Homo sapiens: one gene and its partner. The protein of the gene in region 1 purifies or fractionates together with the protein of each later gene. This does not show direct contact. Each region holds a gene or a part of one and is shown in the gene's direction. Other genes may lie near its edges. The genes, in order: NRGN and TRIM62.

What was found.
Region 2: the proteins of NRGN (region 1) and TRIM62 purify together in Homo sapiens (affinity purification with mass spectrometry; 2 studies listed by BioGRID and IntAct, with this or other methods). This does not show direct contact.

What each region holds. Positions count from the first base shown.
Region 1 is NC_000011.10:124,727,031-124,743,680, forward strand, and holds the start of NRGN (neurogranin), read left to right. Parts: upstream 1-12,911; 5' UTR 12,912-13,054; coding exon 13,055-13,069; intron 13,070-16,650.
Region 2 is NC_000001.11:33,173,406-33,189,671, reverse strand, and holds the start of TRIM62 (E3 ubiquitin-protein ligase TRIM62), read left to right. Parts: upstream 1-7,628; 5' UTR 7,629-8,239; coding exon 8,240-8,647; intron 8,648-13,121; exon of another isoform or gene 13,122-13,219; coding exon of another isoform or gene 13,220-13,264; intron 13,265-16,266. UniProt on the Homo sapiens protein: E3 ubiquitin ligase that plays a role in antifungal immunity by mediating 'Lys-27'-linked ubiquitination of CARD9 downstream of C-type lectin receptors; leading to CARD9 activation, followed by activation of NF-kappa-B and MAP kinase p38 pathways.

The sequences.
Region 1 (16,650 bases):
CAAGGCAGTGTGATGACTGCCAATAAGGCACACACTTGGCGAGAGGGCATACAGGGAAGTGGGGGAGCTGATCACAGCTCTTTACTCTGCAATGATTCTGCCTTGCTAGGCATCAACGTGGCCATGTTTTCGACTGCCAAGGTCCCTTCCTAGGGCTGGCTCATCCCTGCCCCAGTCTGTGTGGTCCTGGAGTGTTTGTCAGTAACATGAGCAAACGCCCAAGAAAGGTTGCTTAGAGCCCTTTCACGAAATTTTATATACGGGTACATAGAGAGAGACGGTGTCTTTTTCTCTTGAGAGTTTGGGGATTCTAATAACCTTCCTTCCTCCACCACCATAAAAGGCCAATCTGAGGGTGAATCTAACACAGAGACACCCTGAGGGAGGCACTGCTGAAAAATGGAAAGGGAGACAGAAACCTGATGGCATTGTTCTAAGCCCTTGGTCCAGCCACGTCAGCCCAGTTAAGTGGCTTCATAACATCCCCAGGTTTGTTTGAGATAGTTATTCCAGAAGGAAGCAGAACCCTGGGAGAGCCCTCAGTGCAAAAATGACCTTTCCCAGAGGGGAGCAGAGCGGGAGAATGTTGCTTAATATGCAAATTTAGTCTTCTGTCTTAATGGCTTCGTCACTCTGAGTAAAATGCACAGATTGAGGAGAAATTCATCCAGGCAGGAGAGGTGGCCAAATAGCGGGGACAGCTTTGGAGTCAAACAGACTTGAATAGAAGCCCAGCTTTACTGCCTACCAGCTGTATGGCCTTGTTCAAGTTACTTAACCTTTCTTTTCCCCATATATATATTTTTTTACCTAGAAAACATTGGAGAATGGTATTTCTTCACCAATGGTATTTGCTTGGATTATTGTGAGTATGACACAACATAATGTATTGAGATGTACGTGCATTCTTTAGTCATCCAGTCCAAAACACCCTTTTCTTTTGTGGAACTGCTTTTCCCCTACTCTTACCAAATGGTTCTGCAGGCCCTGCCAGTCAATGAATCCAACTGGCCACACGGTTGTGCCACAGGCTGGGTCAATTATAATACTTCCCTCACCTAGCCACAAGGGTTAGTGCTAGGATAGGCATAAGGCTCAAATCTGGTTTATCAGCGATCTCCTCTGGGAATTTTACAATTATTATTAATGAGGTTGCAATTGAAGAATTCTATTTCTTCCTTAGTCCCAAGGCTATAATGGCTTAAGTTCAGAGCTGCCTGCAGCCACGGTTCCAGCATGATGGAGATGTCAGCATTATGCAGAAGGAAGCAGAAACAAGTGACATAAAGGGAGGAAGAGAGTCTTAATAGGATTTTACATTCCTGGAACTCCACCTCTGCCCTTTCAGTGAATCAGTGCTTATGTTAATGTAAGTTGAGTTTCTATCCTTTTCCACCCAAAGAGTCTTGATCAATACAGTATGTAATGCACTTAGTACAAAGCAGATGGCACATAATAAATGCTCATAATAAAGATTTGGCACAGAAAGTGCTCCCTGGAAAATGGTTTAAGACCTTCTAGATTTATAGAATCTTTGCTTTAATTTAAGATAAATTCTTTTTATTTTTCTATTTTTAGAGGCAGGGTCTCACTCTGTTGCCCAGGCTAGAGTGCAATGGTGCGACCCTAGCTCACTGCAGCCTTGAACTTTTGGGCTCAAGCCATCCTCCTGCCGCAGCCTTCTGAGTAGCTGGGATCACAGGTGTGTGCCACCATGCCCAGCTAATTTTCGTTTTTTGTAAATACAGGGTCTCACTGTGTTGCCCAGGCCGATCTGGAACTCCTGGGCTGAAGCAGTTCTTCTGCCTTGCCCTCCCAAAGTGCTGGGATTACAGGTGTGAGCCACAGTGCCCAGCCTAAAATAAATTTTTAAGCCCTTGTATATATGTATATATACATTGGTTTACAATAATAAAAATGTATAATAAAAAGAAGTGCCCTACCAGTGTCCCAGAGGTTTCTGCTTTTCAGTATAAGCCATTTCCATCTAATAATTAAAAGTAAATAATACTCATTTTAAGGGAGACAAGAACTTTTAGGGAGTCCTTGTCCTAAGGGTATCTAACTAATCTTTCAGAATATCCGAATAACTAGATTGGCATCTGTTATGGACTACCGAGTGCTGTCTGCAGGAACAGCAGAGAACGGGCGCCACTCCCCAAAGGAGCTCCAAAGGCTTCACAAATGAGGGACTCTAGATGAACATTCACTCTGCCTTTAATCAATCTTCTCTCAGTGCTAACCTTGGAGGGTTTTGTTTTCATTGAAAGAAAAGAGAAGATTCCTCACTGGGTTGTCTGACATGGTTGATCCTAATTCCCTTGACTAAGTTCATGGATTAATGACTGCTGCCTACCAGGCCAAACCAGTGGCCAGTTGGATGGAATGAGGACCAGCCAGCCACTGCCATTCATAAGGGAGTAAGGGCCTACCGCCTATCACTTTTTTAAAACCAATATACATCGGCCTTTTGGCTAAGAGATAAAATGCCTAAACCCATCCAGTCCTCATCTATCTCTGGGTATCTTTGTCTTAAAGGAATTTTCCTTAGTTACTAGTAATTCAAATTATAGCAAGCCCATACTCCAGACATGGGACAACTGGGAGAGGTTGACATGATAGAAATAATGAGAGAGACTGGGGACAAAGGCTTGAGTGTGACTACGGGAACAACAAACAGTCACTTGGAATCCTGCAATGGTTCTTTCGGCTAAGCAAAGCCAAGCTAGAACAACCCATTAGGAAATCAAGGTTGCATAAGATTGCATAAATTTATGTCTGAATTACAAGGCATCCCAACTTAGACATTTCAGGGTCTGTTATCAAAGAATCCCTGGAAACAACTTCCACATGCTGTCCCCATCTTGTCAAAAAGATAGGTGCATTGATCTGATGCATTCGAACATCTCTTATATTATTGTGGCATATTAGGGATTCGTTCACTTAAATCTGTTTTTTGTTTTTTTGAGACAAAAAAACTGCTCTCTGTCCCCCAGGCTCTGTCTCCCAGGCTGGAGTGCAGTGGCACAATCTCAACTCACTGCAACCTTTGCCTCCTGTGTTCAAGTGATTCTCCTGTGTCAGCCTCCTGAGTAGCTGGGATTACAAGCACCTGCCACCATACTTGGCTAATTTTTCTATTTTTGGTAGAGACAGGGTTTCACCATGTTGGCCAAGCTGGTCTTGAACTCCTGACCTCAAGTGATTTGCCTGCCTCAGCCTCCCAAGTGCTGGGATTACAGGCATGAGCCACTGAGCCCAGCCTTATTCATATAGAATTACTATATTATATTATAGAAAGACTGAATATACATATACATATTATACATATTATATACATATTATACATATTATTATAGAAAGACTGAATGATAGTGGCTTAAGTCTATGGGATTATGAGGGTTTTTTTCCCTCATGATTTTATCATGTTGACATTTTGCTTCATGGTCATAAGACAGCTGATACAGCTCCAGACTTCAGCTCTGCTTTGAGGGAATAAGAAACAGGGGCTGGTAGTACTATCTGCCCTCTCCTATCTGGGAAGTAGGAGCTTTTTCAGATTCCTCAGCAGAAATTGGCTTGTATCTCATTGGCTATATCTGTGTCTCATGACTAGCCCTAAACAGGCTTAGACTATGACCCGTTGTCATGTCTGGATCCACAACCACCCCAACAAAACTGCAGTTGCATTATCAAGCAAGAAGAGGGACTGCATGGATATTGACTAGGTAAGCAACGGTGTCTGCCATGATGGTTTCGTTACAGTCTACACAGCCCCACTTATTATCCCAAGTGCAGGACCTTCTTGCTGTCATGATCTGACATGTGTTCAGCAAATAGTAAAGTAGCATAGCTCCACCATCCTGTTCCAGTGGAACAGAAAGTGTTTTCTCTTCTTCAGGCTGGACACAGTGGCTCACACCTGTAATCCCAGCACTTTAAGAGGCCGAGGCAAGTGGATCACTTGAGGTCAGGAGTTCAAGACCAGCCTGGCCAACATGGTGAAACCCCATCTCTACTAAAAATACAAAAATGAGCCAGGAGTGGTGGCAGGTGACAGCTACTCAGGAGGCTGAGGCAGGAGAATCGCTTTGAAGCTGGGAGGCAGAGGTTGCACTGAGCTGAGATCTCACCACTGCACTCCAAACTGAGTGACAGAGTGAGACTCCAGATTAAAAACAAACAAACAAAAAAACAGCAATATTGTCTCTCCTTTAAGGATCAAGCTTTATATTCTTCCTCTTTTGAAGAACATCTACTAGATAGGATTGTATCCAGTACAAACCTTTGACTCTCTCTACTAGGTATATATGAACACTGAACATCCATGGAAAAGTTATCCTAAGTCAAAATGAAGTGTGGTTTTTACTTTCATTTCCTTCTCTCTAAACATGCCTTTTCTCTAAGCAGAGAAAACATTTCCACTAACAACCCAATCCAAAAACAGCTCACGTCCCAGCTCTCCCCTCAGTCACCCCACTCCAACACACAATCCCATGAAGGCAAAGCAAAAATAACACAAATACAGCAACCCAAATAACTATCGCTACTTATCTCATTTAACTTAAATGTCCCACCCAAACTACAGAATAGCAAAAACTTGTAGTTAATAATCCTTTACCTTTCAATGCTTCAGTCTGACCAAAAAGAAAAAGAAAAGTCAAAATAATCATCATTTTCCAAGATTAGAGCCAGGGCTTATCTGGGTAAGAGAACTCTCATTTTTACATAAAGAAAGACATTTGTTCATATAACCAATTCCTGTGTCATGATCCAAGTCCAGGGCTATGTGAAGTATCTTTCACTTTGGGTATACCCTTGAAGAAGCCTTGGCTTGCACATGGCCTGCCACCCAGGCCTTGCAATGGCTGACTTGTAATATCTGCTCATCTGTATCTTGGCCATAGCGGACGACAGTCCACTGGAACAATCCTGTCAATGTCTTCTTTCTTCTGAAGTCTAAAACTTCAGAACATGCCAACACTTATATGAGAAGCTCATATGAAAACTCAGTAGAAGATGATTATTGGTAACACCATCTTCAGCCAGATGGCTGACTTGGATTGGTTTAGAGATGATAGGTGTTAGGCCCTTAATTCCTCATAAACAGCAGTGAAAAGGTGGTCTTCGTCTACCCCACAGGCTGCCGCTTTGACCTGATAGGTAGAAGTCATTAGCCTGTGAGCTTATTTAAGCAATTGGGATCTGCTATGTCAGACCACCCAATGAAAGAAATGTCTCCTCTTTTTAAATAAAAATAAAACCCTCCAAGATTAGCACTGGAAACAAATCCCTGCATTGCGACAGGACACTAAGGCCATGAAGGCTTAAAGTCGCTTCCTCTTGTGATGCCTCCGTAAGGACTGCTGCCACCAAGCTGACTGCCCCACCCTGGCCTCTCTGGCCCAAGGCCAAGTATATAACTCTTCTTTGAATGTCCCCTCACACAGCTAAGACAAAGTAGAATTGCTTAACCAAGTTAAAGGAAGGAAATAATAAAATGGAACTAGACAGAGAGTGACATTAAACCAGATACATTGGAACAGACGTGGCTCCTTCCTGGCTTTCAGGCCCAGTCTTGTTCTATCTCCCAACTGCTCCCCAAAAGAGGCCACCTCAGCATCAACTTTCTCTCTGTCTCCACTCCTCAAAATGGAAGCCCCAGCACCAAATCTCAGAGAGATGAAGAGTTGCCTCCCTATTTAAGGCCTAACTTCTTAGTTGTTGCTGAAGACATACCTGGACCTCTAACAGAATCATGACCTGCTGCAAAGAAGGTCATGCCTGACCACAGCAATATACTTTTCTTTACTGCTTGCTTCCTCTGACATACATTCTTTCATTCTCCGCCTTATTCATTCAATTATTCAAAAACTATTTATTGAATATCCACTATGTTCTGGATATTGTGCTAAGGCTACAGCGGTAAAGAAAACATCTCTCATCTCTTTCTTTATTTTTTTCTTTACATTTTTGTATTTTTCTTTCTTCGACAGAGTCTTGCTCTATCAGGCTGGAGTGCAGTGGCACAATCACAGCTCACTGCAGGCTTGACTTCCCAGGCTCAGGTGATCCCCCACCTCAGCCACCCAACTAGCTGGGACTACAGGCATGCACCACCATGTCTGGCTAATTTTTGTATTTTTTGTAGAGATGGGGTTTCACCATGTTGCCCAGGTTAGTCTCAAACTCCTGGGCTCAATTGATCTGCCTGCCTCAGCTTCCCAAAGTGCTGGGATTACAGGCATGAGTCACCATGCCCAGCCTTCATTTTATATTTTTCAGGTTTTATTGAGGTATAATTGACAAATAAAAATTGTATATATTCAAAATGTACAGTGGGATGATTTAATATATGTATACTTTGTGAAATGATTAGCACATGACATTAGTTAATACATCCATCACTACACATAGGTGCCATTTTTGGTGTACGTGTGTGTGCTGATCACACTTAAGATCTACTCTCCTAGCAAATTTCGAGTAAACAATATAGTGTTATTAACTGTAGCTGCCATATTGTACATTGGATCCTCAGAATCTAATCTGTTTCCCCACAGAACGTATAGGCTAATGAACATATGCTTTAAAAGTAAGCATTAAAGGGTCCTTATTTTTCAGAGAGACATACTTAGATATTTATGAATGAAATGATAATGGGGGAATCAGAAGGCATATGAATTAAATAAGTTTGATGATAAGTTGAGAATTATTGAATGTGGATGATGGGTACAGTGGAGTTCATTACTTTATTTAGTTTTGCATATGTTTAAGTTTTTCTAAAATAAAAAAGTTTTTTAAGTGTTAATATGAGGCAATAAATACTAGATGCCAAATTAATGACATAGCCATAGCCAGTGGATCCAGATTAGAACAATCAGTACAAGCTCTCAGACCAAGAGAGCATCAGCATGGAAAAGTGTGAGCCTGGGATGCTGACCACATACACGCAGGCAAGAGCCACTCATTCTGGATGATTTTAAGAGAATATCGCTCTCCTGGATAAGAGTTCCCCCTTCCTTCTGCCCAGAGGTAGACAATGTTGGGGAGAATGGCTTAAACCTCATTTGGTTCAGCAGGCATGCATTGCTGGTTAAACCAGGAATTTCTTGGATCTGACTATCCAGCAGAACCACAAAAGGAGCAAACGTCTTTAAATAGACTAAGAAATAAGGTAAAAACTACATCTCATGTAAGTCTTTTTGCAGAAATCAATTAAAACAGGTCGTTGTCTGAACCAACACTGAAATGCTTATTATTAGGTTTGTTCTAGAGCTTGTTATTCAAATGGTTGGTGCCTTGTTATTAAAAAAAAATTGTGTTGGTCTAATGTTTGCAGGCAGGATGTGCAGGCCCAGCAGGGACACACATTGCTTAGCCATCAGAGCTTTCACACATTAGGAGAGGTGGGGAAGCAAGCTGAGGAAAGGGAGGTGGAAAGGTAAGAACAAGTAGGTGTTTGGAGCAAAATAGGAATAAGGAGCTACCGCATCCAGGATTTTGAACTACATCTGAGACCTAGAAAAAATGGGATGAAGGCAGAGGATCCAGACACCTGGCACATCTATAGGAGCAAGGGGCAGGTGTGCATTAGAGCTCTGAGGAGCAGCAGGGCTATGGTACTGTAGATGAATTCAGAGCACTGAGCTTTGGACATAAAACCCTGGGTAAGAGGAAGGATACTGGGATTGCTGACCTCAGGGCCCTTCTGGGCTGGGATGGCATGCACTCACAGGGACACTAAGTGTGGTGCATAGCTCACAATTGCTCCTGCCTCAAATGCTCTTCTGCCCACTCCTGGCCCTCTTCACTTATCTAAGTCGTATTTTTGCGTAAGCCAAAAATTAAATTCTAAGGCTCCCTTGAGCCATCTGAACAAACCCCTCCTCTCAACCAAGGGCATTCCATAGTTAACCTGGAAAACTAGTTCAGGCCATGATGGGAAGGCAGGGGGTCTGACATGCTTCATTATACCCTCCTCCCTTTTGGAATTCAGGAAAAGCCGACCAGCATTAACATCAACACAGACATTAAGTCTGATAAGAAACATTTACCATGTATTCTCTCTGCAGCCTGCTACTTGGAGGCTTTGTCTGCATGATAAAACTCTGCTTATCATGGTAAGCCAGACATTTCCTTTCTATTGATTCCAGGTCTTTAGATAATAACTCCTTTAACTGATTGCCAATCAGAAAAATTTTAAATCTACCTATAACCTGGAAGCCACCACCCTCCACCACAGCTTCAAGTTATCCCACCTTTCCAGATCAAACCAAGGTACATCTTGCAAGTATTGATTGATGTATTATGTCTCCCTAAAAAGCATAAAAGCAAACTGTACCCCTTGCACAAACTTGTAAAGCAAGCTTATACCCAACTACCTTGGGCACATGTCATCTGGACCTCTTGAAGATGTGTCAACAGGTGCATCCTTAACCTTGGCAAAATGAACTCTCCAAATTGATTGATACATGTCTCAGATACTTTTGGATTCATGCTTGCTTCAAACCATCATCCAGGGAGGCTTCCTTGACCATCCAAATTCTCAGTCATTTCTTCCACACCTCAACTCCCAGAACATTTACTGTCTGCTTAATTCCTTTCGTATCTATCATTCATTATTTTATACACGCACATATATGTACTTTTTCCATCGGATTACAACATCCAAGAGAAAAGAGATTATGTCTGATTTGCTTAGCTTACGCTAGGAGCACTGTACAGGAGAAATGCAGAATTCAAAGTCAGAACTCCTGGGTTTTAGTCCTAGTTCTGCATTTCCTCAGAGATCTAATGCTGGACAAATAGCAAGTCACTTAACCTCTCCCAGCCTCAGTTTCCTCCTCAGAAAAAGAGGTTAGAAATAACAATACCTCCTAGGCTGGGCACGGTGGCTTATGCCTGTAATCTCAGCACTTTGGGAGGCTGAGGCAGGCAGATCACTTGAGGCCAGGAGTTCGAGACCAACCTGGCAAACATGACAAAACCCTGTCTCTACTAAAAATACAAAAAAATTAGCCTGACATGGTGGTGAGCATCTGTAATCCCAGCTACTCAGGAGGCTGAGGCAGGAGAATCGCTTGAACCTGGGAGGTGGAGGTTGCTTAAGATTGTGCCACTGCACTCCAACCTGGGTGACAGAGTGTGACTCTGTCTCAAAAAGAAAGAAAGAAAAAGAAAGAAAGAAAGAAAGAAAGAGTAATACCTCCTCACACTGTTCTCGAGAGCACCACTTTAAATAATGGATGTGGTAGCACTTTGTAAAGTGCTATTCAGATTTAGCCTAGAACTCACTCTAGAATATTGGTTATTTCCCCATCTTAGCAAATATATTATACCGAGCCTTCCGTATTGCCTCTCTAGCAGCACCCTGAACATAGCAGAAGTTCAAGAAATATTTACTCCTCTTGATAATGCTGGTAACAATCATGATGCTGACAATGACAGAACAAAATGACTACTGGTGAAAATGACTCAACGGTCACCTAATGTCCAGCAAACCTGATTTCTACCTTTGAATGGACCCCTTAAGCCATGTGCTTTCTCCCCCTCTCCTTCCTGACATGTGGGGTGAGGGTGGGAAGAGGCCTCCAGCCTGGCAGAGGCCCCTTTAAAAATGTACCCGGGCTCCTCCTCTGCCAACCAGGTTGCTAAAAATACTACAACAGCAAAAGCTGAAATATTTGCAGAGAAAACTGAATTTCCTGCTACCTCCACCCCCTCCACTCAAATGGGTAAAATCCTGACCTAAGAAGCCCCCAGATCAGCTCCACCAAAGACACAGGCCTCATACTTTCTAGCCCCCTTCTGATTATGGGTCCCTCCACGGGCTTGAGCCAGGATGTGAAGTTCAGAAGGTGCCCACTCCGAGAAGGGGAAGCCACAAGTTATTGGGAAATAGATTGTCACGTGCCTTGGCTTTTCTGCCTGCTTACTAGGACCAACCCTCTCCAAATCCCCTTCCATCTGTCCCAAGAAGAATCTGTATTGGACCACAGGAGCTTCCCACTAATCCATCTTTTATCCTCTCTTTTGTCTATCCCTCACCTGCCTTGGCTTCTATTCCTCACCCCTGTCATCTCCATGCTTCCTGCTGGCTCCATCCCACGGCACCCACCAACATGCCCCAGTTGCCTCCCTAACCTGGCCATTCCCTTCCAGAGCTCATCTCCTTTCCAGGCCAGCAGTTTTCCTTCAGTAGCTATGGGGGCTGGAGACTGTAGATGAGAAGCTTTAAAATTTGAAAAGTCAAGAACAACTACGAGTCCAAGCCCATCTGGACAGTAGGTCATACTCCAAATGTTGACCGGTGGCACCCAGGCCCTAGGCCAGGCAGGTTACCATGGGGAGTATAACTTGGCATCATTCTGCCAAAGACCAGAGCCTGCAGAGGCAGACCCAGCCATCCCTTACTGCATCTGTCCTTTGTCCTAGCTCACCTATTTGAGTATCACAGGCTGAGTCCCACCAGCCCACCTTGCTGACAAACCCCAGCCACCTAGAGGCTCAGAAGAGGGACCTTTCCCCAGCGCTAGTGGGTGCCTTGGCCCCACAGTGGTTAAGGGGCCCACGCTGAGCATGTCTTTGGATGTCAGTGGGTGACAACCCGTGCAGGGTGTGTGTCTCTGGGTGTGTGGGCAGTGTGTGTGTCTGCATCTTTGGGTCTGTGTGTGTAATTTCTATGAGGCCATATGTGTTACTGCTCCTGCCACTGGTATTTGAGTTTGTGAGTGTCTGTCTTCTCATCTCAGGCTCTGCCTTCCTCTCTGTCTTTTCCTCACCTCAGAGCCTGCCCATCCCCCAGGGCCAGCACTGTGGCCAGTTCTGCGTAGGCGCCTTGAGTGGGCTGTTGCTGAAATGGTTGCTTTGCGGATGGAACTGACAGTTGCCGTATCTGTTCTCCTATGGGCCCTCCAGTGTTCAGAGACACCCTCACCCCACACAAAGGTGTCCTTCAGGAAGAGGGAAGGGCTGTGCTGCCTGTGTGGGAGTTGGTGGGGGGGGTGTTGTAAAGATACCCCCCCTTCAGTTCTGACCAGCAGGAAGAAGGGCCCAGAGGCAGCGCAGTCTGCAGAGGGATGTTGCCTAGCAACTTGGGAGACTTGACTGCAAACTCACCAAATCCCGAATTCCTCAGCTCTAATTTGGGAAGAGAAAAGCACAGAGTCTAGGCCTGGTATCCACTCTGTCCCCCAATTTCCCCCTTTCCTCTCCTCTCTGGATTCTGGAGTTGAAGTCCAGCAGGAATTGGCACAACAGAAGGCCACAGATGTGCGTGTCATTTAGGCAAGGGCCTGAGTTCCCAGGACATCTGGCCACTTGGAGGAGGTGGGGAGATGAAAGATGTGCCAGAGACAGATTGGGGAACAGATTTTTTTTTACAAAAGTGGGTGGGTCCCAAACATGCTGGGAGAGACACCCCTACACCCCAAGCCCTGGAATCCCGGCCAGCATCCAGCTCAGCCTGGGACCCCAAGCTGGCTAACCTTATCCCCACCCTGAATGGACTCAGGCATTTCTCTCCCACTCATTTTTCCTTTGGCAAGCAGAGCCTCGGGCCCAAACATCTAGGTGGAAAGGAAGCATGTCACCGCCACGTGGTCCCTGGTCATGGCCAGGGACTGGGGATGCACAGCAGAGCTGTCTCAGGATCTGCTGTCCCAACCAGAGCCACAGGGCATTTCCCACCTTTGCTCCCAGCAGGAGCCATCCTTTCCTCCTTCCCTTCTCTGGGACCTTAGCTGAGAAGACTTTCTAGTTTTCTCAGAGAAGGCCTACCCTACCCACATAACAAGCCACACTGCCAGCTTTTGTACCCTGCCGAGTTGGGGGAGGCTGACGACCACAACAGTGGCAGTCTGTCCCTCCCAGATGCTCTTTCCATAGCTCCCCTTCCCAGCCTCTCACGAAGCCCACATCCTGCCTCATCATGGACCCAAGAGCCAATTACTTCGAATTCTCTACACTTGGGTTTAGGGTATTTTTCTTCTTCTCAGGAGCAAGGGCGAGGATGGCCAGCTTTTGTCTTATTCTGAGGCAGCAGATCAAAAGGTTAGGCAGAGTCTGGTATGAAAGGGAGGAGGATACTTCTTCCAAGTCTGTGCCCATATATAAATACATACAAAATAGGTGTTGTGCATATATGATGTTGTTTGTTGCAGCTCATGTAGACAGATCGATAATAGATACGTCATGCCGACAGCTTGAGTTGGGTGACTGTCCGTGTGCGTGCGTGAGCGCGCGGGCGCCCGCAACAGGGTGTCCGCATTTACCTGCAACTGAAGGGCTGCGTAGTTATTTTTGCAGGTTGTATCTGCAGTGTCTGTATGCTGGAAGAAGGCCTGGGAAAATCATATGTGGACATGTGGGGCTTGTGAGCTTTTGTGTGGACGCATGCCCATCGCCAGGTTGTACCAACAGGTTTCTCCGTCTGTAGCAGGAGTGATGATGAGACCTTTTTACCGCCCGTTAGGGAGCCTTTCTTTGCGGACTGAGGGGGAGTGAAGTGAAAGGGAGCCATATTTGGGACTCCTGCTAGGTTGTGGAAGTATGGAGGGATGGGTGAGGGGTGCGTGGTTTTCTCTGAGCGGGAGTAGGTGCTGTGCCCAGATGTGGGTGTTTGTGCTCGGGGTGTCGGGGGCCTCCTTCTGCCTACTCCGGCGTACATCTGCCTGGCAGTCTGCCGCCTAGCAAGCCAGGGGATTGCGCCCGGGAGGATGGAGTGTGTAGGAGGCTTGGATACAAGCGTGTAGGCGGAGGGGCTGGGGCAGGAGCGGGAGCGCGGCGCAGAGAGCCGCGAGAGGGCGTGGCCCTCCCTCCACTTCTCCCCGCCCACCCTGCCGGAGGCTGCTCCTGATTGGCTTCCCGGCCGCGGGGCTCAGGTTACATTCGCGAGCGGAGCCGAGCGCGGGAGACCGGACCCGAGAGCAGAGCTGCTGTTTCGGCGCGGGTCGGCTGGCGGCCGACTGCCCCAGAGCCCCCACCCGGCACCACACAGACCCCACCCCCGCCCTGCGCCAGCCTTCGTCCCCGCAGAGGACCCCCCGACACCAGCATGGACTGCTGCACCGTAAGTTAGAGGGCCCGGGGGAGGGGCACTTGGCGGGGTCCGCTGCGAGAGGCGCCTGAGAAAGCCCTGGAGGGCGAGAGAGGGATGGAAGTGGATGCGGAAGACCTAGGAGCAGAAAGAAAAGGGGTCCTTGCCGAGACGTGGGTGGTGGATGGTGGAAGGCGCCCGCCCGACTTGGAAGCCCTAGGAAAAATGCTCCTCAACTCGCGGGGGCGTCTGAGCGCCCATCCGTTAGACAGCCTAGGCTGGACTGGGAGCTCGGCAGGGCTCTGCAAGAGGGGAACTGCGGGTTGGATGACAGGAGGAACTTCCTCCCCAGTGAGACGCTGGCAACCATCGCCTGGAGACACTGCAGCGACTCCTTCCTCCCGTCTTTCGGCCCCCACCCCGTTCCCCATCCCACTGCGCCGCCGTCGGTGGGCGGACAGGCTGATCCTCATGACCCTCCAACGATCGCCTAAGCGCCCTGTGCAGCGCAGGCTGGTCCATATTGGTTAGCTCGGTAGTGATGCTGGCTGCAAAGAGCCTAGTCAGGGTGGTTCTGGGGAGGGGTTGTCCCGGCCCCCAAGGCCTTCTCGCTCGGAAGGGGCTGGGTGAAGTGACCGCGAGAGAGCCCTGCTGGCGAGGAAAGGAAGTGTCTGCAATTTGTCAGCGCCCACGCGGAAACCTGGGTACTGCAAGTGCCCAGCGCCCGAGGGGTTTGCTGTAAAGGTGACTCGGTATGAAAGCGCCTGGCATAGGCCCTGGCTCCTGCCTCACTGGAAGAGTACAGTGATCATACGTATATGAAATTTATTTGTTTGCTTATTTATTTTTTGCCTCTGCACTTGGAGAAAGACTATTCCAAAGTCCTTGTATTTTCAGTCATTCAGTCAACCAGCTAATGATACACGAGGTTACTGACTTTGCCACCTTATGGCATAGTAAAGAAAAAAAAAGTGGGCTTTGGAAGGGAAGGATAGCCCAGTTCTATAATAGGTGAGACTTTCCCATGTCTGGGTACCAAGAGGCAGAGAACACTTAGGGGCAAGTGGTGGTGGTTGCGATTTTAACTCTTATTAGTTTAAGTAATAGTTGCCAGTTTGTGAATGCCTGCCCTGTAGCCAGCACTTTATATTTAATCATAGCAACAACCCTGTGAAGTAGGTATTATTTCACAGATGTGCCAACTGAGGTTTAGAAAGTTAGATTTTTCCAAGGAAGCATGACTCCTAACTGTGGAGGCAGGATTCAAACATAGCCCTGTCTTCTTCGAAGAGCTGTGGTTTAACCTCTCCTCTAAATATTTACTGATTATAAAAGTAATCTGCTCATAATAGAAAACGTAAAACCTAGAGAAAAGTATGAAAAACAAACATGTCAGTCACCTACAGTCCCACCCCCTGGAGAACACCCCGATAACATATCTCCTTCCAGCCTTTTCCCTCTGCTTGTTATTCTACAGGAAGCAATTTTTTGGTTGTGAAGGGAGAAATGGGCTCCTCATGGAGGTTCCTGGGCTCCACTGAGGAAGAGCCCTTCCTCCCAGCAGTGTTGTATAAAGTAGAGAAGATAAATGGATGGTGGGTTCTGGGAAATGAGCTGGGGGGAGGGGAGAGGTGAGGATGACAGGGGAGTATTGCTGGGGAAGGGGAAGTGGGAGACGTGGTCACTGGAAAGAGGTGAGTAAACAAAGAATCCAAGAGGCCAGGGAAGGAATGGAATTGGTCTCCTCTGTGTCTGCAGTAGTAATTAGAGTAGGATGTGGGGGTCCCTGCCTGGAACTGTTGCTCTTGAGTGCCCAGGGAGCCATACTGAGGGATTAGTAGACATGGTTGAAGTCAGTGTCCCTTAAAAAAGGAGAGGCTACCCACCCAAAAGGTAAAAGAGAAGCAGATACACAATTATCTCCATGGCCCAGGGCCTGGGGCACCTCCTCCAGTGCACCCTGTGCACAGGAGCCTTCCCAAGTCATGCCCTGTCCTAGGTCTGCAGGGCTAAAGGGCTGAGCAAGAGAGAGCACCATTATCAGACTGTGCAGGAGGGCAGGAAGAAGAAGGAGTGATGTGTGGAGGGTTGGGGAAGGGCAGGGCTAGGGGTGGGCATTTTCCTCCCCTTTCTGTGGAGGGCTGGACTCAGTGCTGGGAGAGAGCTGAGATGTGTGGGAAGAACAGCATACCTCTTGGGGGCTAGAGGCAGGTCCTTCTTCATCTTTTGATTCTGGAGCTCTCCTCACTGACCGCATCACCTGGTGTTTGGGAAGAATCTAGTCCTGTCTTATTCCCGTTTCTCCTTGGTACAGAGGCTCAGATAGAAATGAGGAAGAAGAAAACAGATCTGCCTATTTTTTTAAGAGACAGAGGAATGGTTTTTTATTCATGCTGATTCAAATATTGCAGTTGCTGATTTACATAGCCATATATATATATGACTTTTCCTGCATTCACCGCGCATGAAAAAGCGCATGAATTTTTTTGGATCCTCATTTCTTTTGCTTAGTCTAGTTGGCTTGGCCCTGCTGAATTCATAGAAATAATTACCTGCCCTGAGGCAGTGGCTAGCAGCAGAGGCTACTGAATCCCATCACTTCACTATTTGTCAACTGAGTGACCTTAGCTAAGTTACAAAATGTCTCAGAGGCTGTTTCCTGACTTCCAAAATGGGGATTAAATGAGGTAATATATGCAAAGCGCTTAGCACAGGGCCTGACATAATAACAAGCAGCAAGCAGGGGATATCCTTAAAGCTATTCGGATTTGGGAGCTGAAGGAGACTTTGTTCATTAGTTGTGGCTGAAGAAAATGAGACTCTCAGAGATGAAGTGATGTGCCCAGTTGGGACTAGAAGGCTTGGACCCCACTTTGCTGACCAGGGCACCTTCCACCTCCTCCTCCCTCCCAGAAGTCCCTACTTCCTATGGAACTGTCAGGCACACACCAGCAACCTTGGCTTTGGAAAGCACCAGCCAGGCACCATGACCAATGAACCTCTTCCCAGGTCCTTTCAATCTCCTTCCACTTCCACCTGTGGACTGGCCACCTGGCAGCTCTGTCCTGAAAATTCAGCTGGTAGGAGAGGGAGCTGGTTCTGGGGAGGAACATGGAGTGTCGGGGGTGGCTTTGCCTGCTATTCCAGGTTTCCATTCTGGATCCAGCTGGGGCGGGCGGTGACAGCAGGTCGGGTCTAGCGTGGTTGGAGGCAGATATCCCTTCCTCCACTCAACCTTCCCACTCCTCCACAGCTGCGAGGCCAAGGAGGAAAGGTAGGTCAGGAATGCTTTTTTATGGTTGTCACCCTCTTGAGAAGAAGCCTCACTGTTCCCTGAGGATATCCCAAGAAAGACTTGAGCTCTAAGAATAAAACATTCCAAAGGAGTCTTTTCTGAGCACCCTAGACCTGTGTTTGGCCTTTCCACAACCATACCTGCCTTTTTGTAACTCTTTTTTTCTTTCTGTTTTTTTGACTCTTCTACCAAAATGTAACTCCTTTTAACTGTGTTTAAATCGATTATGGGCATCTTGAGCACGAATTGAAGAATGTGAAGCCCAGGAAATGAGGCTAACCTTGGGAAACATGGCGAGGGGAACCATTTATAAGCCGGG
Region 2 (16,266 bases), on another chromosome or scaffold:
TATATATATATATATATATATATATATATATATATATGCTGGAATGTGAATTTCTGAACCCCAGCCCCAGCACTACACAAGTTGATACAGAAGTGTGGTTGCGGCGCTAAGAGGCAACAGCTTAACAACTGACAAGAGTTACAATAAACGATGTAGAATATATATATATGGGGGATCAACTGATTATATAGCCAGAGTTTCCCATTGTAAGTTGTGTACTGTCAGATCCACCCAACTGTATAGTCGAGTATGTGCAACAGTAATCCATTGAAGGGTGGACATGGAACGTTGTCATGAACTAGGCCTGAGCAGGACCAGAGGTCACAAATAAACTACAGAAGCAGGCCCAGAATCCCCTGTTGTGATCCCTGCATTGGAACCTCTCCCCTCAGCTCACACTTATGAAATCATGAGAGATTCCTGATGACCAGGTGACAGAGGAGGAAAAAGCTTAGGCCTGGTTTATGGACAGGTTGGCACAATAGGTTGGTGGAAAACAAAAGTGCACTCTTACTGCACTACAGTCCCACTCAAGGGCTCCTGAAGAACAGCCATGTGGAGAATTTTTTGCAGGGGCAGAACTTTAGGCGGTGCATTGAGTCATCAACTTGGTGCAGAAAGAGTCGTGGCCTGAGGTCAGGAATCCCAGGCAGTAGTGAACAGTTCAGCTGATTGCTCAGGGACTCGTGAAGAGCAAGACTGCAAAATTGCAGTTAAGGAGGTCTGGGGAAGAAGCATGTGGATTGATCTTTGAGAGAAGACACAAAAATATGTGGGTCTCTGTCTCATTTCATTGTCTACCAGAGGGTGTCCATCGCAGAGAAGGTGCTGAACAATCAGTTAGATAGGATGATTCATCCAGTGGAAATGAGCTTATCTCTCTCCTTAGCTGCCCCAGAGCATGCACAACAGACCCATAACTGAGAAGCCATGGTAAGAGGGATGGAAGCCACGCATGGCCCAACAGCATGGGCTTCCTCTGGCCGAGGCTGACCTAGGTATTACTACTAAGTGTCCAATCTGTCAAAGCACAGGCAGGGCTGAGCTCTTGACATGGTACCACCCCTCAAGGAGGGCACCCAGCCACATGGTGCCAGTTGATTACACTGGACCCAACCACCCTGGAGGTGCTGTGACTCTTCTATGACTTCATGGGACTGATACAGATTTGCCTTCTCTGTCCACAATGTCATGATCAGCAGCACTCTCTCAGAGTTCCCAGGGTGTGCAGTTTATCATCAAAGCATTCCCCCATAACATGGCCATGGAGAAAGTGAGCACATGACCATGTTATTCACTGGTCCTGCTATTTACCATACCAACCAGGGCTGCATCCTGAGAAAATGCTGGAATAACCACTTGAAGGCATAGCTAAGTCATCAGCTTGAAGATAGGGTTGAGAACCTGTCCTTACATGTTTGTTTGTTTGTTTGTTTGTTTTGAGATGAAGTCTCATTCTGTTGCCCAGGCTGGAGTGCAGTGGCACAATCTCTTACTTCAACCTCTGCCTCCTGGGTTCAAGGGATTCTCTTGCCTCAGCCTCCCGAGTAGCTGGGATTACAGGCACCCGCCACCACCCCCGGCTAATTTTTGTATTTTTAGTAGAGACGGGGTTTCACCATGTTGGTCAGGCTGGTCTCAAACTCCTGACTTCGTGATCTGCCCGTCTCGGCCTCCCAAAGTGCTGGGATTACAGGCGTGAGCCATCACACCCTGCCTCCCTTACATGTATTTCTATACTTGAGACAATAGCTATTGTAAGGGTGCTACATCCCCAACAGTCAGAATACATAGGTCTGGAAGCCAAGAAATGAGTGGCCTCTCTCACCTTTATTCCCAATGACCCACTTGGCAAATTTATGCTTTCTATTGCCAAAGCTTTAGGCTCTGTTGAACCAGAGATCCTAGTTCTCAGAGGGTAGGGAGAGATCACTTCTACCAGAGGACATAATTGTGGTTTTACTAAACCTAAAATTATATCTGCCTCTGGTAATTTTGGGATCCTCATGACAGCAGACCAGCAAGCTAAGAAAGGAGATTCTGAACAGGCAGGAGTAAGTGACCCCTGCTGGACCAGGTGAGGGGCATCTAGAAAGGGTAGTAGAGTCGGAAGCTGAGCATCAGTTACACTTTAGGACCAACTACAGCAGTGGGGTCTGGAGATTGTCCCTCCTCTTATCTGTTATCCTTTCTACCTCTTCCTCTTCCTTCTTCTCCTCTCTTCTTGTAACAAATCGTGACTTTCCACCACCCAAAGAAGCAGTGACAGAACATGAAACTTAATATGAATGCAAGTTTATCTGAGCAGGTGCAAGGGTGAACTGTGACACATACTGTCAATGCCCTGCCATTGTCCCTCAAACCTGTCAATGTATTCCCAAGACTTCCAACTGCCAGCATCCACATGGTAGCTAAGGGATCATTTTCCCAGAACTACAGAGAGCTGACTGTACACATCACAGTTCACAAGTGCCAAAGAATTAAACACCACCAGGGAGCAGCCTCAACACTCAAACATGGTGTATAAATACCCCAGCTCCCTCACCCTTTGGGTGGGATGCTTCTGAGGCATCGATCATTCTGAGGTTTTGTACCATTTCCCAGAGTTTCCCTGCAGGATAAATCTTCAGTTCCCCTTTGTGATAATAGTGCACCCTTATGGGGCTGCCTTCCCTTCCCTGTATCACCTTCCCACTTCCCTATTAGTGTTACTTATGCTCCCCAAATAAACTATTTTCACTTTAGTCCTTATCTTAAGGTCAGTTCTTGGAAGAACCCATGCTAAGACACATGTGGCTCAAGGACTATGCATTGAGAAGCACTAATTTAGAGAGTGAACTCATTTCTTTTTTTTTTTTTTTTTTTTGAGACGGAGTCTCGCTCTGTCGCCCAGGCTGGAGTGCAGTGGCGGGATCTTGGCTCACTGCAACCTCCACTTCCTGGGTTCAGGTGATTCTCGTGCCTCAACCTCACAAGTAGCTGGAATTACAAGCACCCGCCACCACGCCCAGCTAATTTTTGTTTTTTAGTAGAGATGGGGGTTTCACCATGTTGGCCAGGCTGGTCTCAAACTCCTGACCTCAGGTGATCCTCCTGCCTTAGCCTCCCAAAATGCTGGGATTACAGGAGTGAGCCACTGGACCCAGCCACAACTTTGTTTTATGTGTGTTTCTGCTTAGAGACCCTTATTTAATATATAAATTGTTGATTCACTAGCACTGAACTCACAGCCAACACTACTGTAACTCATGTCTGAACAAAGCTTATCAAGCACACGTATTTTCTCCTTAAGGCACATCACAGCCTTCTTGTGCTTGAGAACACCAGAGAGCACTTCAGCACAATGCTTGGGGCCATTTTAAATAGCAAAATCACCAACAAAAAGGCACAAAAAATGAGAACGGTTCGCACCAAATAAGTCACAAAAAGAATACTTGTTTACACTATGACAGCTGAGACAAGAAGGCAGGGTGTCCCTTTGTTCACCTTCAGCTGGGAACATATGTGTGGGTAAGTCAAGATTTTCACCACTGCACATAAGTATGTCCACAAATAATAGCAATTGTGCCTCAAGTATTGATTTGAAGGTTACAAATAAATTTTAGAAGTAGGTGATTTTGCAAATATGGAATCCATAAATAATGAGGATCAATTTTCTTTATTTTTTCTGATTACAAAAATATATATAATAAACAGAGCTATCTAATGTAAAAGTTAAAGTCCCCCATAATCCCAGCCCACAAAAGAACACAATTAGAATATAGTTCTATAGAATTTTTGTTATGCAAATAATGCCTGTGATTGTGTCTAAGTCTGTGGGTGTCTATGTGTCAGTGTATTTGGGTCTTTCTTTTCTTTTTCTCACTCAACAATAGCTCTTGGATAGCTTTCCAGAAAAAAAAATTCCTGATGTTAATTTCTGGAGTATGAATGGAAGCAGATGGCATACACTGCAGTCAGGATCTCTAAGTCTTAGTTCAGACCACTCAACCACATCAGATGTGGAGAGAGCAATGACTTGCCAAATGTAAAGATAATCAACAGTTTTAGTGTTCTGCATCTTAATGGAGATGGAATAAGGTCAAGAGAAGAACTGCTCAGAGGATAAAAGGACTGAACACTGGGAAGTAAAGTGAAAGAGAAGAGACTGGGTCGGGCACGGTGGCTCACACCTATAATCCCAGCACTCTGGGAGGCCAAGGCAGGCAGATCACTTGAGGTCAGGAGTTTGAGACCAGCCTGGCCAACATGGTGAAACCCCCTCTCTACTAAAAATACAAAAATTAGCTTGGCGTGGTGGCGGGCACCTGTAATCCCAGCTACTCGGGAGGCTGAAGCACAAGAATTGCTTGAGGCTGGGAGGTGGAGGTTGCAGTGAGCCAAGATTGCACCACTTCACTCCAGCCTGGGCAACAGAGCAAGACTCCATCTCAAAAGAAAAAAAAAAGAGTCTGTGACTTTCAGCCAGAGAAAACCACATACTATGTCCTTTGGAGGAGATTAGACCTACATATTAAGACTATCTACTGAAAGGATTTAGACAATAGAGTAAAATAGTACCAGAGCCTCTTCTAAAAACAGCTGCAAAATTGGCTGGGCGCAGTGGCTCATGCCTGTATTCCCAGCACTTTGGGAGGCAGAGGCGGTTGGATGACCTGAGGTCAGGAGTTTGAGACCAGCCTGACCAATATGGTGAAACCCTGTCTTTACTAAAAATACAAAAATTAGCCAGGCATGGTGGTATGCGCCTGTAGTCCCAGCTACTAGGGAGGCTGAGATAGGAGAATCACTTGGACCTGGGAGGCAGAGGTTGCAGTGAGCCAAGATCATGCCACTGTGCTCCAGCCAGGGTGACAGAGCGAGACTCCATCTCAAATAAATAAATAATAAAAACAGCTGCAAAATAGTATGGAGAAAGCTGGGCTGCTGCAACAAAAGACCCAAAATACAATGGCTCTTAGAAAATAAGTTTACTTCTCACTCTGTAGTCCATGTCAGGGTGGCTGTACTTCATGCAGTCATTCAGGAACCCAGGATCCTCCCATATCTTTGCTCCATCAGCCCTTTTGAAGCATTATTGAAGCTGTGTCCCTGGTACATCTATGTTCCAACTCAAGAGAAGAGAAAATGGAGCATGGGAGAGCAAAAGCTTCATGCCTTAAGGTCTATTTCTATTTATGTTCTATTAGAAAGATTTTAGTCACCAAGTCTCACTCGGCTGCAAGAACAGCTGGGATGTATGATCTCTAGTGGACCAGCCATTCCTCCGACTGCTACTCTACTACATAGAAGAACAGGAGGATGAAGTTTAGTGGACAGCTAGCAATTTCCATCACATCTCCTTTATTTGAGCCTTGGTATCTTCCTCTATAAAACGGGGATAATAATATAAACTAGTTAAGGCTGCTTTGGGACTGAAATCCAATAATATATGTGAGAATGCTTAGCAAGCCCTACTGTGCCTGATAAGAATTTCTCATTGATTTTGCCCTCTAGACTGCCAGCTCCTTGGGAGCAAGGAGCATAGTTTATTCCACCTCCTCACAAAGACCTGCTTGGAGTCAGCATCAGTAAATACATGTTGAATAATGAAGTCACTGTTTCATCCATCATCAAGCCTTTTTTTTTTTCATTTCATTTCAAATGCTTCAATAATTTAGACTCTGCCCTGTTCACTTTCCCCACCCCCTCATTAGGGGTGCACGTCAGTATATCAGTTGGGATTCTCTGGGTTGCAAAGTGACAATGCACTACTGTTAAACTGGCTTATGCAATAAGATGGACCATCTCACATATCCTGAAGTCCAGACTCTGCATCAGAATAAAAGCTTCTCTTCCCTAGGACTCTCTTGGCCTTGCCCTCCCTTCTGTATTTGCTGCATCCTCAGACTGGGAGCAAGATGGCTGTTGCAATTCCAAGCATTGCCACCAAACATATCCCAGCAAAGGGGGCAGACTGTTTTGCAAAGTAAAGAGACCATTTCCTGAAAACCCCTCTCTGCCATAGGCTTCCCCTTTAGTTTTTCAGGCTGGACCTGCCCAAACCGTCACTGGCAAGAGGAATGAGACCACCATAATGGACTTGGACCAAACAAGACTCACTCCATGAGACCACCATAATGGACTTGGACCAAACAAGACTCACTCCTGGAAATGGGCTGGGGTCAGCCTTCCTTGGGTCACTTGGGGAAGGGGGCCACCTGACCAAAATCAGGGCTCTGCCCATAAGAAAATGTTGAGAAACTGCTGTTGCATGAGCAACCAACTATTTTTCTCGCAATGATGGAGATTCTGGGCCAGATGAGGGTGTGATGGAGAAAGTGTTAACCATAGAGAACTAAACTGAGAGCTTTTTCATAAACTGTACCTCAATAAAGTTTAACACCAATGAAGATATTTCTGGAGGAGGCAGAAACTGGTAGCCACCCTCTATGGCTCATTTCCCTCACCCCCGTATCCAACCATCACCAAATGTCACCGTGTCTGTACTTGCAATACCCTAGTCTTCTCTCCTTACCCACTGCTGAGGCCCCAGTTCGGGTCTCACCTCCTGCAGGCACGATGACAACAGCACCTTAGGGGTGCCCAGTCTTTCCTTCCTCCTGCAACCCAGGGCGTTGATGCGGTTATTCAGCTACACACCTTTACTGTGTGCTGAGTGCTGTGCATCCGCAGACACATTGGAAAAGCTCCCTGTCTTCTTCACCTTGCAGATGGTATAATGATTATCTCCAAGACTTCCTGAAACCCAATCGGACCAGGTCATTCCCTTGCCTGAAAGCCCCATGCCTTCAAGAAATTCTTTACCATGACCCACAATGCCCTCCAGCCCACCCAGGCTCCTTCTCCACCCCACCCCCAACAGTACAGAATTACTAGCACTTCCTTCACTGCGCCCTCCCCTTTCACGCCTCTATGCTTTTGCACAGGCTGTCTCCTCTGCCTAGAAATCCCTTATCCCCTCTCCATCTGGCACACAAGACAAGTTCTCCTATTACTTTTTCTCCCTCTCTCCTGCTCCACCCCTCACCGCCTTACACACACACACACACACACACACACACACACACAAATACAGCACTCCAGAATTGTTTGCCAATGGAGGCAGCCTCCGGGGCCAGATGTTAGCCAGGGCTTTCCAAACTTCTCCCCAAGCACTCCTTAAGAAAGTGAAGAGGAAATGGGACCCCAGGGCTTAGGAGTGTGAGGGCCTTGAACTCGCTCTAAGCAAGCAGGGCATTTCAAGAGTTTTATCTTTATATTTTATGCAGAAGTTGTATTCCAAATATATTCTTGTTCGTTTTAATACAAAATATGATTTTTTCTACATCTTCAAATCGATGATCCAGAAAGATGCTCCTTGTTTATTTGTTGTGCTCTCAAATTAGCTGCTCCGCCTCGCCGCGGGGACCCTAAGCGAGACCTGGATGCAGTTCCAAGTACACACCCCGAAGGAACAGCTGGGCTTCGCTTCCCTGGGAGCTGGAGGATGGTGGGGGTGGGGCGGGGTCAACCGGCTGGTGGCCCCGCCCCTCCCCCGCCCGCTGCGGGGGCGGAGTTGCTTGGGTCCCGCCCACGGGGGCGGGGAGGCAGCCGCGGCCACCGGCAGCTCGGATTCGGCTGGTTCCGGGTTGAGAGGCTGCGCTGGACCGAAGCGGTGGCTGCTAAGCTCGCGGGGGTAAGGGGTCGCGCTGGGCCAGGGTTTGGGGCCGGGATCCGGCAGCTGAGCGGGCCGGCACCCCTCCTCTTCTCTGCCGGTCACAGCCAATGTACGGCTCGGCCTGGCTGCCCCCTCCCCCAGGATTCCCCATCCCCAGCTTCTCGCCCTCCCCGCACCGCCCCCACCCCGGGATTTCGACCCCCTTAAGGGCTCCACCCCGCTCCGGGATCCCCTTCTCCCAGCTCCTATCCCTTAGGACTGCCCCGCCCCCTAGAACCTCCCCGTCAGGATCTCCGTCCCTCAGCCGCTCACAGCCTCCTCCCAGCGCCCATCGCCTTGAGCTGCCCACTACCTCTAGACTGCCCTCCCGGGCTGGCGTCCCACGGAGTCTCAGCCGCGCACCCCTTCCTCGCGTTACCCTCCTTCCGGACAGCACCCCCTCCCTTCTCCGGTAGCTCCTACCCCTGCCTGTGCGGGCCTCGTCCCCGCGCCCAGCCCTCGGTGCTGCCTCCGACAGCGCCGCGCTCTCTCAGCCGCCCCCCTGCCCCTCGGGCCCCCCTCTCTGCTGCCCCTGGCGCCATGGCGTGCAGCCTCAAGGACGAGCTGCTGTGCTCCATCTGCCTGAGCATCTACCAGGACCCGGTGAGCCTGGGCTGCGAGCATTACTTCTGCCGCCGCTGCATCACGGAGCACTGGGTGCGGCAGGAGGCGCAGGGCGCCCGCGACTGCCCCGAGTGCCGGCGCACGTTCGCCGAGCCCGCGCTGGCGCCCAGCCTCAAGCTGGCCAACATCGTGGAGCGCTACAGCTCCTTCCCGCTGGACGCCATCCTCAACGCGCGCCGCGCCGCGCGACCCTGCCAGGCGCACGACAAGGTCAAGCTCTTCTGCCTCACGGACCGCGCGCTTCTCTGCTTCTTCTGCGACGAGCCTGCACTGCACGAGCAGCATCAGGTCACCGGCATCGACGACGCCTTCGACGAGCTGCAGGTGCGCTACCCGGCCTGCCTGGGGAAGGGGCGGGGCCGGGCTGGAGGTGGGGCCGGGCGGGGGGTGGGGTCAGGGCTGGACCGCGGGCCAGGCCCAGTCAGAATGGTCCTGGGGCGGGGCCGCCAGCAAGGTCAGGGCCCTATCAGGAGTAACGCGGGGCAGGGAGGGGCGGGGCCGCCGCATGGCGGGGCCGTGGGGGCGGGGCCTTGGGCAGTCCGGACCCTGAGGGATCTGAGACAGACCTGGAGTACCGGCTGGTCCGCGGTTAGGGAGAAGTCGGGGATGCGGATGGGATGGCGGAAACAAGTGAGATCAGAACTGGACCAGATACTGGGCTGGGGCAGGGTTGTGGACGAACCGGAATCAGAGTTGGGCAAAGGCAGGGCCACTGTCAGACTGAGGGCGAGGTCGCGAGGATGGGTCTGTATTAAACCGGGTAGCTGAGCTCTGGCAGGCTGGGGGTTCTGTGGGGGCGGAGACCGGATCAGATGTGCATCAGGACTAAGAGGAGTACGGGGGCTAGAATGTGCTGGACAGGTGAGGGTGAAACCTAATAGAGTGGTATAAGTTAGGGTGCCAAAGTGCTGAGAGGGCAGGTTTGAGTACCGAGGGTTAGGCCAAGGTGTATGAGGGGTTAAGACTGAGATCAGGTCCGGATACTCTACAACAAGTTTAGATTTAAGCCAGAGTAGAGGCCAGGTTGAGTGGGGCCAGGACTTAAAGGTAAAGATTTGGAGAATAAGGCCCAGATGTAAGGTGATTCAAGAAGGGAGGGGCTAGACCTCTAGGAGTCTCTAGAGGTTTTTGATGACCTCTTTGGCTCTGTCCCCCACATCAGGACTTTTGAAGACTAAGTGAAACGGTACATGCAGAGTGACCTGAGCATAGTTGGCATAGAACTCTAATCGGTCTCCCTTAAGACTTCCTGTCTTCACTGACAAACTCCTACTCAACTTTTATTGAGCCTTGCTCAAATATCCTCTCCGTGAAGCCTTCTCCAAGTTCCACTGGTCAAACAAACAAACAAACAAACAAAAACATTAGAACTGCATTTCCCCAAATGCTCTCTATTAATAAGTGTGGGAAATATAGTATATTTTTTATACCCACCCCCTTGGAGAATTTTCAGTGTGCATTTGCATATTAAAAGCTTAGAGAAATTTTGTTGCAAATAAATCTATTTTACTGTGTTTAATAAAATGGTTCCCAAGCTTACTTGGGCCTGGAATCCTTTTTTCAAGCTAAATCACTTAAATCCAGCAGCCCCATGTACCTGGCTTTGGGATACTAGTCGAGCACGTAGTTCTCCAAGGCCAGAGACAGAATCTTATTTCTCCTATCTATGGCCCCAAAGCCTGGTGCAAGGCCTGGCCCACAGTACACACCAATAAAGGCCAAATGAATGAACGAAAGAATGACCAACCCTGGCCTAAGCTGGACCACACTGTGGAGCGTTTGGAAGCAGAAGGTTTTTGGCTCAAACATTTTATGAAAATGGAGTGGGCTAACTTGGGAGGTAATGAGCTCTCTGGCCTCGAGATACTCAAACAGAAACTAAATAATTACTTTCCCCTGTATTGTAGGGGCTCCCAACCCCTCCACACACTAGTCTTTGAGTAGGCCTGCACCCAGCAGATGCCCATGGGCCTCAGGAGAAATGGCCCATGTTCACCATCGCTCCTTCCCTGTCCCTTTTATCTCAAAACTACAACTGACTCCCTTCCAGTCTAGCTGTCTGAGGATGAAGGCCCCATCAGAGGGTGAGCAAGGGCCTGGGCCTCTGGGAGCCTGCACAAGGCTTGGCCCTCCACCCCCAGAGCCATCGTTTTAGGCGCTGCTGCTGTCCATCTCCCCGTCTATGGAGTCACATAAGCAGGAAGAGTTTGAGGGGACTCTGTCTGAAACCATCTGTCCAACCTCTTCATCATGTAGGAATGGAAAGTGAGGCCTGGAGAAGTTATGTGACTTGCCCAAGGCCACACTTCCAGACAGTGAGAGAGCCAGGGCTATAGGGCACAGCCTGACCCAGATCCCTCTTCTCTGATCTCTCCCCTCCTTGTCTGACCTTCTAGCCTCTGCTTCAGAGCCTTGGTTCTCCTGTCTGCAAACCAGGAAATCCAAATTACTGTATGTTGGGCTTCTGTACTCTATCCCATGACCTGGGGGACACAGGAGAAATTGAACATGTATTACCTACAAATATTATTGAAATGCTTCATTATTGGGTGAAAAGTAAAACAGGACTGCCACTTGCTTACTCTCTAGTGCACTGTTGTGGGGTTGGACATACTTGGGTTCCAAACCTGCTGTGGGCACTGTGTGCACCTTGGTGAGTCACTTCATGTAAACGCTGATGCTCTGTCTGTACAATGGGGTCAGGATGCTTCCTTCCTACCAGGACTTTTGTGAAGCTGACCTGGGATTAACCTGCTATTTGAGGTTCAAAGGCACACAGTACGGGCTGGAATAACATACAGCCCACCTTTTCTCTTTCTGCCTGTGAGAGCTCATGTGCCCAGCTGAGTGAATGCCCAGACTCTCCTCTCTGGCCCGAGAAGGAGGCCTTGCTTTAGTGTGTCCTCTGGGCTTGGCAATTTGGTGGCAGAGAAATCTGCCTCCCATCTAGAGAGGATGTGCTGCTGGGTGAGATTCAAGGCACCCTCCACCCCACCTGCCTCTCCCTCCATATGGGGAAGGCAAGGCTTATTAGCTATTTATGCAGCAGAAATAAGGCTGAACCCACCCTCACATCCCCTTCTCTCCCAGCAGCTGATGGAGCTGGGGCCCTTCTGCAGAATTACAGACTCAGAGCCATGCAGATGATCTGGTGCCACATCCACTTGACAGATGGGGAAACAGGAGAGGGAGAGGGAGGAAGGGAACTTGCCTAAGGCCTCGAAGCCAGAGGAAGCTGGGCCTATACTCAGCTGGAGTCTCCCAACACCCTACCTAGCAGTTGGCGTGCAGCTTTTACATTTATTATAAATCCTTGAGGCATCAGAGCAGAGAAATTAAGAGCCCTGCTTTGTACCCAGGTAATCTCAATCCTGGCTCTACCATTTACTGTGTGACTTTGGGAAGATTATTTACCATCTCTGAGCCTTGGGTCCTTCATGGACAGCATGGAAGTAATTATATTAGGATTAAACAAGATGATGTTTATAAAAACTTAGTACTGCACTTGGCACCTAACAGCACTCAATAAATGACAGCTATAGTAGGTTACATCGTACTCGGCATTATTGACATTTGGGGCTAGATAACTGTTGTGCAGGGCCATCTTGTGTGTTATAGGAAGTCTGGTAGCATTCCTGGCCTCTACCCATTAGATGCCAGTAGCAAACTCCACCCACCCCGCAAGTTGTGACAATCAAAACCATCTCCAAGCATTGACAAATGTCTCCTAGAGTCAAAATCACCTCTAGTTGAGAAACCTGACCTAGAAAAGTCCCACTGAACTTTAAAACTTCAGGTCAAATATCACCTCCTCTGTGAAGCCTTCCCTGACCTACTAAGCACAATTGCTTTGTACTCCAGATTACATCACAGGGGTCAGATCCTGACATGCTGTGTGTCCTTGGTCACGTCACTTTGCTTCTCTAAGGCTCCTTCTCTAAGGTTCATCTATAACAAGAGGATATGATGTTCCTGGGAAGGATGTTGTAAGGGTTAGGGATCCTTTATCAGAAGTGCCTAGTACTGTGCCTGGCATAGTAGGCACCCCAAAACTATTTTTAAATGTCTTTATTCTGATTATAAAATTAACATAAGAAGCAGAGCTGTATAATGTAAAAGTTAAAGTCCCCCCATAATAATACCCCATGAAACATGGCAGGAGTTACTATACAGTTCTAAGGATTTTTATGTAACCTGTGGGTGTGCATGTGCGTGTGTGTGCATGCGTACATGCATGTGTGTGTGCATGTGTGTGCATTTGTGCATGCATGTGTGTGTGTGCATGTGTGTGTGTGTGCGTGTGTGTGTGCATGTGTATGTGTGTTGGTGTCTTCCTCCCCACCTCCACTGCTGAGTACCTGGACCACTGAGCAAAGTGGAGGGAAGGAGCCCATTTCCAAAGAGTTCAGGGCTTCTCAGCCAATATTCATCGAGCCCAGTCTGAATGCCTGGGACTGCACTAAGGGCTTTTCTTGCATTACCTCATTTAATCTTCATAGCACCCTGTGGGATGGGTATTGTTATCTATTTCTTCTACTGATGAAGAAACAGACTCAGAGGAATTAAGTGACTCATTTGGTCACGCAGCTGGTAAATGGCAGGGCCAGGATTGGAAGCCAGTCTGACTAGGCCACATACCGTCCCTGAGCTACCTCTGAGGGCTGGGTAATTGTCTCCCAGCCACCCTGCCTGTCCTGTATTGACAGGGCTAGGCCATCTGTGCCAGCTGACGCCCCGAGGGCAGGTGGTTGGGACGTCATCTTGGTCAGAGCAGACGTGGCATCCGGCTCTCTGGCCGTCTCAGGTTCCTAACCCCCAGAGAGGGGATCCGATTCAGTCTCAGCCGCCCCCTCCAGGCCTCATGTGACCATTGGAGCCCTTCCCAAGGCTTCCTTCATGCCAGAGAAGACAGCAGTGGATCAGCCTTGGACGCAAGCCCTGGTAGGCAGGGTATGGTGATCCAGTGACACCAAGGCAGCCACCCAAGGAGGGAGGGGGCTGGGGGCTAGGTTCAAATTTCGGCTCTGGTTTCTTCCAGGAGAGGGGGTGACACCCTCTTACCCAATCTGAGAAATGGAAGTAAGAACTAGCCCTCCTGCTTTCTGTATAAAGAGAGAGAAAGAGTTGCTAAATATCCAAAGAAATGAGAGATTCAGAGGCACTTTATTTTGTAGCATGGACAGGAAGGCAGCTGGGTTGTCTGTGTTGTGGGGAAGTGGCTCTGCTGTTACTTTTCCAAGGAGAGGGCAGGATTTCTATGCCAACAGCAGCCTCTGTGAGGGCAAAGCTGGCTGTGGGTCAAACTCAGAGCTGGCCGCTGGCATCTCCACATCCCTCTTCACAGGTGTCTGGGCAGCCAGGATACCTTTGCTGAGCACGGGCCACAGTGTAGAAGCTTAGGGCCAACATTGGGGACCCCAAGATGTTTATTTTATAGAAAGAAAAAAGACCTGGTAGGGACTAACAATGATGAAACAATGACTCTATAAAATTATAGCCCAAGTTTTGGAGGCACAAAGTAAGTTATGGGGCACTTACTGTGTGCCAGGTGCTGTGTTATAGGCATTTGATTCTCACAAGGATTTTTTCGTTCCCTACTCCCTGAGTGGGACTGAGATCAGTACCATCTCACAGATGAAGAAAATGAGGCTGAGAGATTCAGTAACCTTCCCAAGATCACACTGCAAGTAGGAGGAAGAGCTGAGATTCAAAGTGGTCTTTCTGACTCAGAATTCACCCTCCTTCCCAACACGCCAACTGTCCCAGGGAGCACCAAATGGGGAGGAACCTGAGAAACCATCTGGTTGACACGCTCCCCATTTTGCAGATGGGGAAACTGCCTTGCCCAGGGTTAGACCAGAGCTCAGCTCTCCCGACTCAGTCCAGTGTTGTTTTCCCAGTACCATTTACCTTCCTGACCTCCATCTCTGCTTGAACACTCAGAGGGATGAGGCAGATTTGGAGGTGAGTTCTGTCTTGGATTCAGGGATTCCTTTAATAATTTCTGGGCTGGGCGCAGTGGCCCACGCCTGTAATCCCAGCACTTCAGGAGGCCAAGGCAGGCGGATCACCTGAGTTTGAGATCAGCCTGGCCAACATTATGAAACCCCCATCTCTACTAAAAATACAAAAAAAAAAAAAATTAGCTGGGCATTCGTGGCACACACCTATAATCCCAGCTACTCGGGAGGCTGAGGCACGAGAATCGCTTGAACCGGGAGGCAGAGGTTGCAGTGAGCTGAGATTATTCCACTACTCTCCAGCCTGGGTGACAGAGTGAGACTCCATCTTAAAAAAAATACATATACATATACATAAACATATACATATACATATACATATACATACATGTGTGTGTGCATATATATGTATATGTGTGTATATATATATATATATATATATACACACATATATGTATGTGTGTGTGTGTATATATATATATACACACACACACATAATTTCTTTAGCCAGTATCTGTGCCATGGCTACAGAGGGCCAGCCCTGTGTTGGGCCCAGGAGAGAACTACACAAGACCTGGCCCTGTGTGGTCCCGAAAGATAGGCCCATAAACTGGTAGGTTGCTGTAACTGAGGCTTGCTCTGTTGAGCTGAATCCTAAAAGATACGCTGAGTACTTCAGGCCAGGGAGCAGAAAGAAAGATGTTATGGACAGAGGGAACAAAAACATGCACAGCCTGGTGCAGATTGTTCCACGGACTGGGTTCAAGGCTTTGACAGGCAGTCATGCTCTCCTTCTCTCTCTCTCCCCCAGCCTACCTCTCATTTAATTCTAACAGTAACCCTATGAGATGGATCTCATTGCCCCATTTTATAAATGGAGAAACTGAGGCTCAGAAACTGTGCCTAGCTGGGCACAGTAGCTCACACCTGTAACTCCAGTACTTTGAGAGGTCAAGGCAAGAGGATTGCTTGAGCCCAGAAGTTCGAGACCAGTGTGGGCAACATGGCAAAACCCTATCTCTATAAAAAATGCAAAAAAATTAGCTGGGCATGGTTTCATGCACCTGTAGTCCCAGCTATTTGGGAGGCTGAGGTGGGAGGATCACTTGAGCCCAGGAGGTTGAAACTGCAGTGAGCTGTGATGGTGCCACTGCACTACAGCCAGCCTGGGCAACAGAGTGAGACCCTGTCTCAAAAAACCAAAAAGGAAAAACAGAAACTGTGCCTAAGGGCCTGGAAAGGGAGAAGGGAGAAGAAGGGGGAAGAAGAAAGGGGGGAAAAGAATATAAATGTATTTACTACCTCTGAATTGTACACCTAAAAATGGTAAAGATGATAAGGTATATATGTATATTTTACCTCAATAAAATTTTTTTTAAAAAGAGGCTAAGCACAGTGGCTTATGCTTCTAATCCCAGCTCTTGGGAGGCCAAGGTGGGAGGATCATTTGAGGCCAGAAGCTAGGAGTTCGAGACCATCCTGGGCAACACAGAGAGACCCCATCTCTACAATAAATTTTTAAAAATTATCCAGGCATGATGCATGCCTGTAGTGTGAGGTACTTGGGAGGCTGAGGCAGGAGGATTACTTGAGCCCCAGGAGTTTGAGGCTATAGTGAGCTATGATTGCACCACTGCACTTCAGCCTAGGTGATAGAGTGAGCCCTTGTCTCTAAAAAAATTTTTTTTAATTAGGGAAAAAAAAAAAAAAGAAAGAAACTGTGCTTAAGGTCAGAAAACCACTAAGTGTCCCTGAAGCTGAAACTTGAACTCAGGTTATCTGAGTGTGACCAGGGACAGGCATGGAGGTGAGCACACATGTGTTCAGGTGGTTCGTTGTGGCTAGAGGGGAGGGTGTGGCAGGAGGAGGTAAGAATGGAAAAGCAAGGCTTGACCAGCTCAGGAAGGGCTTTGAATGCTTGAATGTGCACATACATGCACACACACACATACACACATACACATGCATGCGCACACAAGCTCA